2 separate regions of the Homo sapiens genome follow, and region 2 is linked to region 1. Evidence: fine-mapped expression QTL. A gene starts in region 1. The other region holds a variant in brackets. All regions are shown on one strand. Distances are from middle to middle.

Region 1 (4,502 bases):
GGGAGGAAAGACCACCCACCAAAATAAACAGGCAGATCCAAACATTTATACAGGAAACATCTGGCTGAACGGAAGAGGATCTTGGGGAGATGAGAAGCCCCCCACATTTCATTTTTTTTTTCCTAAAATGTCCTGGACTGGGTGGGGAGGGTCAGCCACCTGGGGTTTAAGGAGCAATCCCCTCCCCACACCGACGTGCTGAGGAGCAGATGTGTGTGAGACAGACACAAGGGGCAAAGATAAGGACAAGAGGGTGCCCTCTCCTTGGAATCTGTTATGAGGGCTGAGGGTGTCCCCGTCCAGCTCCTGGACTCTGGGGGATCTTGGGTGAGATGGGGGCCGGAATGGGCTGGGGCAGGGGTGAGGCTGGGCGCTCAGCCTAAGAAGCCATCGGGGTCATCATCCTCAAAGTGGCCTTGCTGAAGCACCTTGATGTGGTGCTCGTAGATTTTCAGGGCTGGCCCGAGGCGGATGGACAGGCCGGTGAGCACATCTGTGCGCTGCATGAGCAGCAAAGATTTGCCATCAATTTCCTGGGTGGGACAGGAACAGAGAGAGCCGGGATCAGGGCACATCCCAGGGAGGCCCTCTGTGTCTGTCAGTGTGTAGTCCTGGGCTGGAAACTCACCTGCTCTTGGAAAGCTGTCGCCTGCTCCGGGAATCCAGCCTCAGTAAAATATTCGACGACATCCATCACGGTCCACTCGACGGGATCAGATGGCTTCTCTTTGCGCCCGGGACTGCATCAAAACAAACAGACACCAGTGAACACGGATGTCTCTCTGGCTGTACCACACACCTGAGCAGCACCCCCATGTCTCCAATACCCCAACTTACGGACAGCCAAAGGGGGTCCCGTCGGCCCCAGGTAGGGCTGGTTTGCCTGGGGGCAAAGGCACGGGGGACGGGGAGTCTGGCCCGGTGGCAACAGAAGCTGGGAAGGAAAAAAACACCTGTCTTTGGCTTTGTCTTCGGGCTGAGTTCCTCTCCACCTAGCACTCTTCCCCACCCAGAGGGATCCTTACCTGTTCCCCCTTCCTTGTTCATGGCTGCCATGGAGAACACCTGGCGGGTGCCGCTGCCCGGGGCTGGCCCCCGCCCTTCATCCTGGCCCTGGTGCGGTCCGCAGGGGGTCCACTCCTTGACCCTCTCCTTGGCACTCTGAGGTCCCCGCTCGCCGTTAAGCTGGTGGTGCTGGGCACCTGCAGGACGGTCACTCTCGGGCACTTCAGAGCCCTCTGACACATCATCTTCTTCATCTTCATCTTCATCATCATCTTCTTCCTCTTCTTTCTCAAGTACTCGCTCTTCTCCACCTCTCTGGAGCCGAGGAGAGAAGCATGCAAAATTAGTAGCTGTTCTAATCCCAGACCCTGACTGTGGCGTCCGGGCGGTGGGGAGGAGGAACCGATTCCACCTTTAAGAACAATACGGACTAACTTTTACGCATTCACTCCGTGCCAGGCTCTGTGTTAACTAAAGCCCTCGACAACCAAATCTTACTAAACTCGCTCAACAACCCCAAGGGGTCGCTACTGTTATTAAACCGCGTTTACAGCGGAGGAAACTGAGGCTCCGGGAGATTCAATCACTTGCCAAGGTCACCACGCACCGAGCCCGCAGGAAACGCGCGCAAAGCCCCAGCCACCCGCCACCCAGTTCCTCCCGGGACTCGCGCCCCCGCCACCAACTTCGCCCGCACCTGCCCACCGCGCGGCGCCCCCGCTCCCCGGCGCGCTCACCTTGCTGCGAGACGGGCGGGCGCTGGCGGCCGGCGGCGCCCGTCCGGGCCTGTCCCCGCGGGGCAGCGCAAGCGCTCCGAGACGGGTGCGCTCCAGACGGCCTCGAGCCGCCGCCTCCTCCTCCAGCAGCCCCTGCACGCGGCCGCGGGTTAGGCGACCGCCGGCGCCGCCGCTGCCCCCGAGGTAGCGCACGACTTCCCGCAGGCTCACGGGCCGCGCCGCGCCGCCGGCCCGCACCGCGCCCCCCTCCGGCGGCGGCTGTGGCTGCGGCGGCGGCGGCTGCTGCTGCTGTGGCGGCGCCGGCGGGGCCGGCGGGGTGGCTCCGCGCCGGGGCGGCTGGACGCGCGCCGCGTTGCGGTACGAGATGCTCCCCTTGTAGCTGACCCGGAGCACGGCGCGCTGCTGGATCAGTTTCTCGAGCTCGGCGCGCGTGCGCTCCGGCTCCGGGCCGTGCCGCCGCCGCACCATCCGGCAGATGCGCTCCAGGTCCGGCCGCGCCTTGCGCGAGCGCAGCGAGTCGATGGTGTCCAGGATCCACTCTTGGTAGTGCGGGGAAGCGGCGGACGACGAGGCGGCGGCCGCCGTGGTGGCGGCCGCCGCCGTCTCCGGCGGGGGTAGGGCCGGGGGCCCCGCCATGCCTCCCGCCCGGCCCGGCTGCACCGTGCGCGCTGCCTCCCTCCCAGCGCGGCGCCCCCCTCCCCGGCTCCCCTCCCTCCGCCGCTGCCCGCCTCCTCCGCCTCCCCCCCCGGGGGGCGCAGCGCCTCGGCGGAGCGGCGGCGGCGCTGCTGTTTCTTTGCAAAAAAAAAAAAAAAAAAAAGAGAGAGAGAGGGAGAGAGAGAGAGAGGAAAAAACAGTGAGAGAGAAAGAAAAGAGAGAAAAAAATATGCACACACTCACTCACTCGCACGCACGCACACACAGACCCGCTTCTGCTGGGCGCGCGCGGGGCCGGGGATGCGAGGGGGAGGAGGGGAGCGCGGCGCGGCCGGCCCCTCCCCGCCGCCGCCGCCGCCGCACGCGCGCCCTGCGCCCGGGACACTCCGGCCCCCCTTCCTTCCCTCCCTCCCTCCTCCCCGCCGCCCGCCTTCCTCCCTCCCACCCCCACGCGCCCGCTTTTAAGGTGGAGCCCGGGCCCCCCGCCCGCCCCCTTTACCCTGCGCTCTCGCTCACTCCGGCTCGCTCCGGCCCCCCCTTACAACTCCCGCGCGCTTTTTAAGGAGGCGCCGCGGAGTTGGCCCGGGGCGGGGGCGGGGGAAAGCGGCGGGCGGGGGAGGGGGAGGGGAGTGCCGGGGGGAGTGGAGAGGGGGCGGGCAGGGCGGGCGGGCGGCGCTCGGCCGCCCTCCAGCCATTGGGCGCGGGACCCAGACGTCCCCGGCGCCCAGCCCCCCTCTCCACGCCTCTCCAGCGCGCTCCGCTCTCGGGACCGCACTTACCGGGAACTCGCCGCCCGCGGGCCGGGGCTGCCGCGCTCGCAGGGTGCTGCGGGGACCCTCCTGCTGCCGCCGCCCCCGCGTCCCTCAGGCGCGCCTGGCCCGGCGCTGAGGATGCGGGAAGGGGGGCGCGCACCCTCTCCCCCTTCTACTCCCCCTGCCAGGGCCGCCCCCGCCGCCGCTCGGCCTCCTGGCGCGCCAGCCCCAGCGCCTCCCTAGAGCGCCCTCTCGGTCCCGGGCTGGACGCCGAGGGGGCGCGCCGCAGATTTGGGGACCCCGAATCTGGGGTCAAAGGGCAGTTTGACGCTCGTTTCTCCTGCGGGGCCGAAGGAGTGCCGGAATTTCAGCTAAACCCTGGTTACAAGGACTTCAAGCCAGGACCTGATCGGCCTGCACGCTGGGGTCCGAAATTCCCTTTCCAACCCCCTGGGGGTGTGTGGGTGGGTGATCGAAGTCGAGAACACCAGCGACACTTTTTTTTTAAACAAAACTTTATTGGTAATAGTTTTCAAATATGTTTACAACAGCACACTGTTCAAGAGGAAGTCTCGTCCTTCGCAGCACACAGGTTGAATCGCCCCCGCACCCACCCGGGGCCCCACCCCAGGCCTGAGAACTCCTCCTGGGATGGGGAGAAGTTATGAGAGGGGGAAATACGGGGATGAATGGGGTGGCTCCCCAGCGGCTCCCCACTTTTCTATTACGAGAGAAAAAAGCACAAATGAGAAAGTGGGGGAGAGGTGATGGACAGCTGACAGCTAAGCTGGAGGAGGGGCGCCCAGGATGGGGGAGGCGGAAGCTGGTGGGTGAGTAAAACAGGCAGCCCCTCCCCAGCAGCTCTAGCCTTGAACCCCGGGCCGTGGCTTGGGGGGACTTGGCCTCTTCTGTTCCCTTTTGCAGGGATGCCCTCCCCACTCAGCTGAGGGAAGGCTGGACGTTAAAATCTAGCGGAGAATAAAATTAAGGAGTTGGGGGGAAACGCTGCTGGGAGGAAAGACTTGGGCTTGGGGCTCCCCCTCTGTCTTTTTGGGGGATGACTCCTCTTTGGCAGGGAGAGGGGCAGCTGCTTTGTCTGGCTTTCAAAGCCCAAGGGTGAAGACAGGTCTGTTGGGGAAAAAGAGAGCGGAGGCTTCCTAAAGGGGCCTAGACCCTCGCAGGATTGGCAGAGAGGATTCCCCGGGGAGGGGCCCAGGGGAGATTAGCAGCGGGGAGGTTCAAACCCCAGCGCCTCCCTTTCCAAAGTCAGTCTGCTTCTCTTTAAAATGGATTTGAGGAATGGGGGGACATGGGAGGGGTGGGAGTAGAGGAAGGAGGGAGGGAGGCACTGGTG
Region 2 (4,000 bases), 58 kb after region 1:
ACAAACGAGCTATAATATTTAGGGGACTGTTGTAGTGGCTCTGGTGAAAGATGGGTGAGAACTAATTAATTCTGGATATTTAGAAGTTAGAGCCACCATTGCATTTACTGTCAAATTAGATGTGGGGTATCAAACAAGATGAGTTCAAGAGAAGCTCCAAGGTCTTTAGCTTGAATCAAGGTATGGATGGACTCACTTTTAGTTGAGGTGAGGAAGCCTCAAAGCCTCACGTGGGAAGAACTACAGTGGTGGCAGTGGTAGAGATGGGGGTGGGAGAGGCCAGGGTCTCAGTTTAGGACAGGTTAGTTTGAGATCCTACCAGATACCAGGCAGAGAGATGGGGTAGGTAGGTGAATATATGTAAATCTGGAGCTCAGGTAGGAGTTCAGGCTGGAGAGCTACGTTTGGGGGTGATCAGTGTATAGGTAGCGTTTCTTTCTCTCTCTCTCTCTCTTTCTCTTTCTTTCCTTTTCTTTCTTTTCTTTTTCTTCTTTCCTTCCTTTCTCTTTCTTTCTCCGTTTCTCTTTTCCTTTCTCTTCTCTTTCTTTTCTTTCTTCTGATGGAGTCTCAGTCGCCCAGGCTGGAGTGCAGTGGTGCGATCTCAGCTCACTGCAACCTCCGCCTCCTGGGTTCCAGCGATTCTCCTGCCTCAGCCTCCTGAGCAGCTGGGACTACAGGCGCTCGCCACCACACCCAGCTAATTTTTGTGTTTTTAGTAGAGACGGGATTTCACCTTGTTGGCCAGGCTGGTCTCGAACTCCTGACCTCGTGATCTGCCTGCCTCGGCCTCCCAAAGTGTTGGGATTACAGGCATGAGCCACTGCACCCACCCGGAGGCATTTCAAACCATGAGATGGGGTGAAACCTTCCAGGGAGTGAGAGAAAAGGTCTAAGGACTGAGCCCCTGGGTTCCCCATCATTAGGAGGTCAGATGAGAAGGAGCCAGCCATGAAGACTGGGAAGGAGTGGCTGTTGTGGGGAGGTGGGTGGTGTCCTAGACACAGGTATCTTTTTAAGGCAGAGGGGCCCGGAAAAGGATCCTTGTAGTTTGAGTAGTTATGCCTCTCTCTGAGCATGGGCAGTTCGTTGGTGAACTGACAACGTGAAATACACATGATGCAATTCCACCGTGTGTCAAGTTTGAAAGCACTCCCTGCCAGTAGCGTGTGGGAGTGTAGGAATGGCAATTGTAATGAGACATCACAGTGTAAAATTCCTGAGCTCTGCTCTAGTACAGCCTGGGGACAGACGTCTGGGCCAAGAAGGGCTTCTGTGAGACAGCATGGAACAGTGGCCTGGTCAGAGAGACTTGGGCATGCATCTGAGGGCTGTAAGCCTCAGTTTCCCCATCTGTAAAATGGAACTCTAATCGCTGTCTCCATCTGGGAGGATTTTGTGAGGATTCAGAGAAACTGCACATGAAATGCTCCACCAGGCCCAGGAACTTACCAAGGTCTCATAAACGTGAATGATTCTATAACTGTCAAGCCTCTGCCAGGGGTTCTGAATGCTCGAGTGCAGACCAGAGCCCATGGGGACGCCCCTGTGCAGATCTGCTCAACCATTTCTTTCTTTCTTTTTTGAGACAGAATTTCACTCTATAGCCCAGGCTGGAGTGCAGTGGTACGATCTTGGCT[T/C]ACTGCAACCTCTGCCTCCCAGCCGGGTTCAAGCAATTCTCCTGCCTTAGCCTCCCAAGTAGCTGGGACCACAGGTGCTTGCCACCACGCCCAGCTAATTTTGTCTTTTTAGTAGAGATGGGGTTTCACCATGTTGACTAGGCTAGTCTCAAACTCCTGGCCTCAAGTGATCCACCCACCTCGGCCTCCCAAAATGCTGGGATTACAGGCCTGAGCCACCGCGCCCAGCTATTCACCCATTTCTTACTCCCCCACTCAAGAAGTCACACCACTCTTGTCATTCCAAGAAATCTTAATTTCTTTATTGTTTGACTTTTTGACTCAACAATTTTTTTAAAACTTTTTGTTTTTTTCTGAAACGTTCTTGTTGTTATGAGCCTTTTGTTTTGTTCTCGTTAAATGCACTCGACCCAAAATTGGTTTGGCATATCGAAAAGGAGACCAAGGAGGGAGGGGCTGGGGCGTGGGAGGTGGGGAGGAGGCCCGAATGGACAGAAAGTTGAGGATAAGAGAAGAGGAACATAGAGACAGCCAGAAAGACATGGGGAAAGAGTGTTGGAGACAGAGAAAGGGGAAGGCAAGGGAAAGCCAAAAGAAACCAAAATCCAGAGAAAAAGAATTAACAAGATTTAGGAGCAAACGAGTTCAGGAGCCTAAGGAAGGGAGTAGGAGAGGAAACCAAGACCCTTCTCTGTACCGTCCCAGCTGGGGTGGGGGCGTCAAGGCACCAGGTCTGGTTAGGTTGGGGGGACACCTGGGCTCTGGGGGCGGCTTTGCACTGGACTGCAGTGATGTCCAGCCCCAGCAGGGGGCCCTGCCACACAGCTCTGAGGCCTGGAAGCCACCCGGCGATGCCGGCTGGAACAGGACCCGATACACCCTCTCTCCCTTTGATTGTCCGAGTCTGGAGAGATACAAGGAAGGCTGGGCAGGGAGGAAGTTGGCCTCTCTGTGTGCCTCAGCCCCCTGGAACTCTCCTGGCCCTCCTCCTGGTGTCGGGGGCAGCCACAGGCTGGGCTGCTTCCCGGGACAGGCCAGCTCCTCGCCTGCTCATGCCTCCTGCCCGCTCTTCACAGACCTCTGACCACCCCTCCACACAACAGAGCTCCCAGCCTAGTGCAGTCCGGGAAGGGCCATGGAACTGTCCCTTGCCCTCCTCAGAGTCGTCTGGCAAGACTGTCCCTGGCCTCACTTCTCCTCCCCATCTAGACTTCACCCATGGTCTTCTGGTGTAATGGGTTAGGCCTTTCTACCAGAAAAAGCCAGAGTTGGAACCCAACCCCACCTCTTCCCCACACCTGTTCCCTTACACGGGACAAACCACCATCTTTGGTCTGACCCCTTCTCCCCTAATTGATGGGGACAAGCCAGCCCCAGCTCCCCGGGAGAAGGGAGGGGCTTTCTAGCAGCAAAAAGGGTCCCTCCAGCCACCTACCTGTCCCCTTCCCCCCAGTTCCTTCCTAGAGCCCCTCCCCCTTAACCCAACAAAGTTCATGGCAGCAGCAGGCTGAGACCCGAAGATGTTTGAAAACTCATGGCACTTGTGAGAAAAGGAGGGGCAGAGAGATGGGGAGAGGTCAGAGCAGAGGTGGAGGGGCCACCTCTGGGGAAACGGCAATGCAGGGGCTGGGCTAGGGTGGCCTGGGGCTATGCTGCCCCTAGAGTTGAGGGAAGGGGGCTGGGGAGGCTGGCCTGACAGGCTGGAGAGGAGGGGGCCGGGACAGGTGCTCAGGACACATCCCGAGCCTGGAGCTTCCGGGGTCTGGGATTTGGGGTCAAGCCGCCCAGAACATGGGTGTCCCGACCCCAGCCCTGGCACCTGGCTTCGTCTTCCCTGCGGGAAGGTGGAGGATAGGGAAGGTGATCTCTCACCTTTGCCCCTCCCCATCCCCCAGACCGCCTTGCCGTTCCCAGCACCCTCCTCAGCCATACCCATGCCCTCCACAACCCCAGTGCCTCCCCATTTTCCTTCTGCCATCAACCTCTCTAGGTGGGAAATCAGCCCCATCTTCCCCGGCGAGAGTCCCCAGAGCAATATACAAGAAGCAGGAACTCAAAGGGACAGCGCAGCCATCTTGACAAAGCATCTTTGGGTGTGAAGAGGTCTCCCCCGGGCCGGTGGGGAGGGAAGGGGGAGACAGGCCTCTGGTCCTGGGGCAGGCAGTGAGAGGTACACGCCCCAGAAGGGCTGATGATGCCGGGCAGGCGGAGCAGGAAAGGAGGGTGCCAGGAAGGAAATGGGTTCTTTGTTTCGCTGTTGCATCTAGATTTTGTTTTCTGTCTCTGGATTGTAAAAAGCTGCTCTGGCGGCCCGCCCGCCCCGGCGGGGACTGGGGATGCACGTACACGGAGAAGTCCTGGCT

Evidence for each region. PIP is the estimated chance that this variant, and not a neighbour inherited with it, causes the effect.
Region 2: its variant is the best candidate, but not a certain one, in a credible set for the expression of SAMD1 in blood mononuclear cells (TOPMed, PIP 0.51).

The regions. Positions count from the first base shown.
Region 1 is chr19:14,088,043-14,092,544 of GRCh38, forward strand. It overlaps SAMD1 (sterile alpha motif domain containing 1), which reads right to left and starts at 2,709. Exons shown (of 5, transcript NM_138352.3): 1 at 1,743-2,709; 2 at 1,026-1,320; 3 at 838-934; 4 at 629-740; 5 at 1-533. The coding sequence starts at 2,378. The coding sequence ends at 375. PRKACA (protein kinase cAMP-activated catalytic subunit alpha) reads right to left here. Exons shown (of 10, transcript NM_002730.4): 10 at 3,646-4,502. RefSeq lists an enhancer at 561-1,070 and silencers at 1,715-1,764, 2,065-2,324, 2,655-2,874, 3,015-3,064, 3,115-3,444.
Region 2 is chr19:14,145,826-14,149,825 of GRCh38, forward strand. It overlaps ADGRL1 (adhesion G protein-coupled receptor L1), which reads right to left. Exons shown (of 23, transcript NM_014921.5): 23 at 1,918-4,000. The region is part of intron 1 of ADGRL1-AS1 (ADGRL1 antisense RNA 1); the gene reads left to right. Among named protein-coding and RNA genes, the nearest start is that of ADGRL1-AS1, 11 kb to the left of the region's middle. RefSeq lists an enhancer at 2,053-2,796. The variant T/C (reference allele first, on the strand shown) is at 1,638.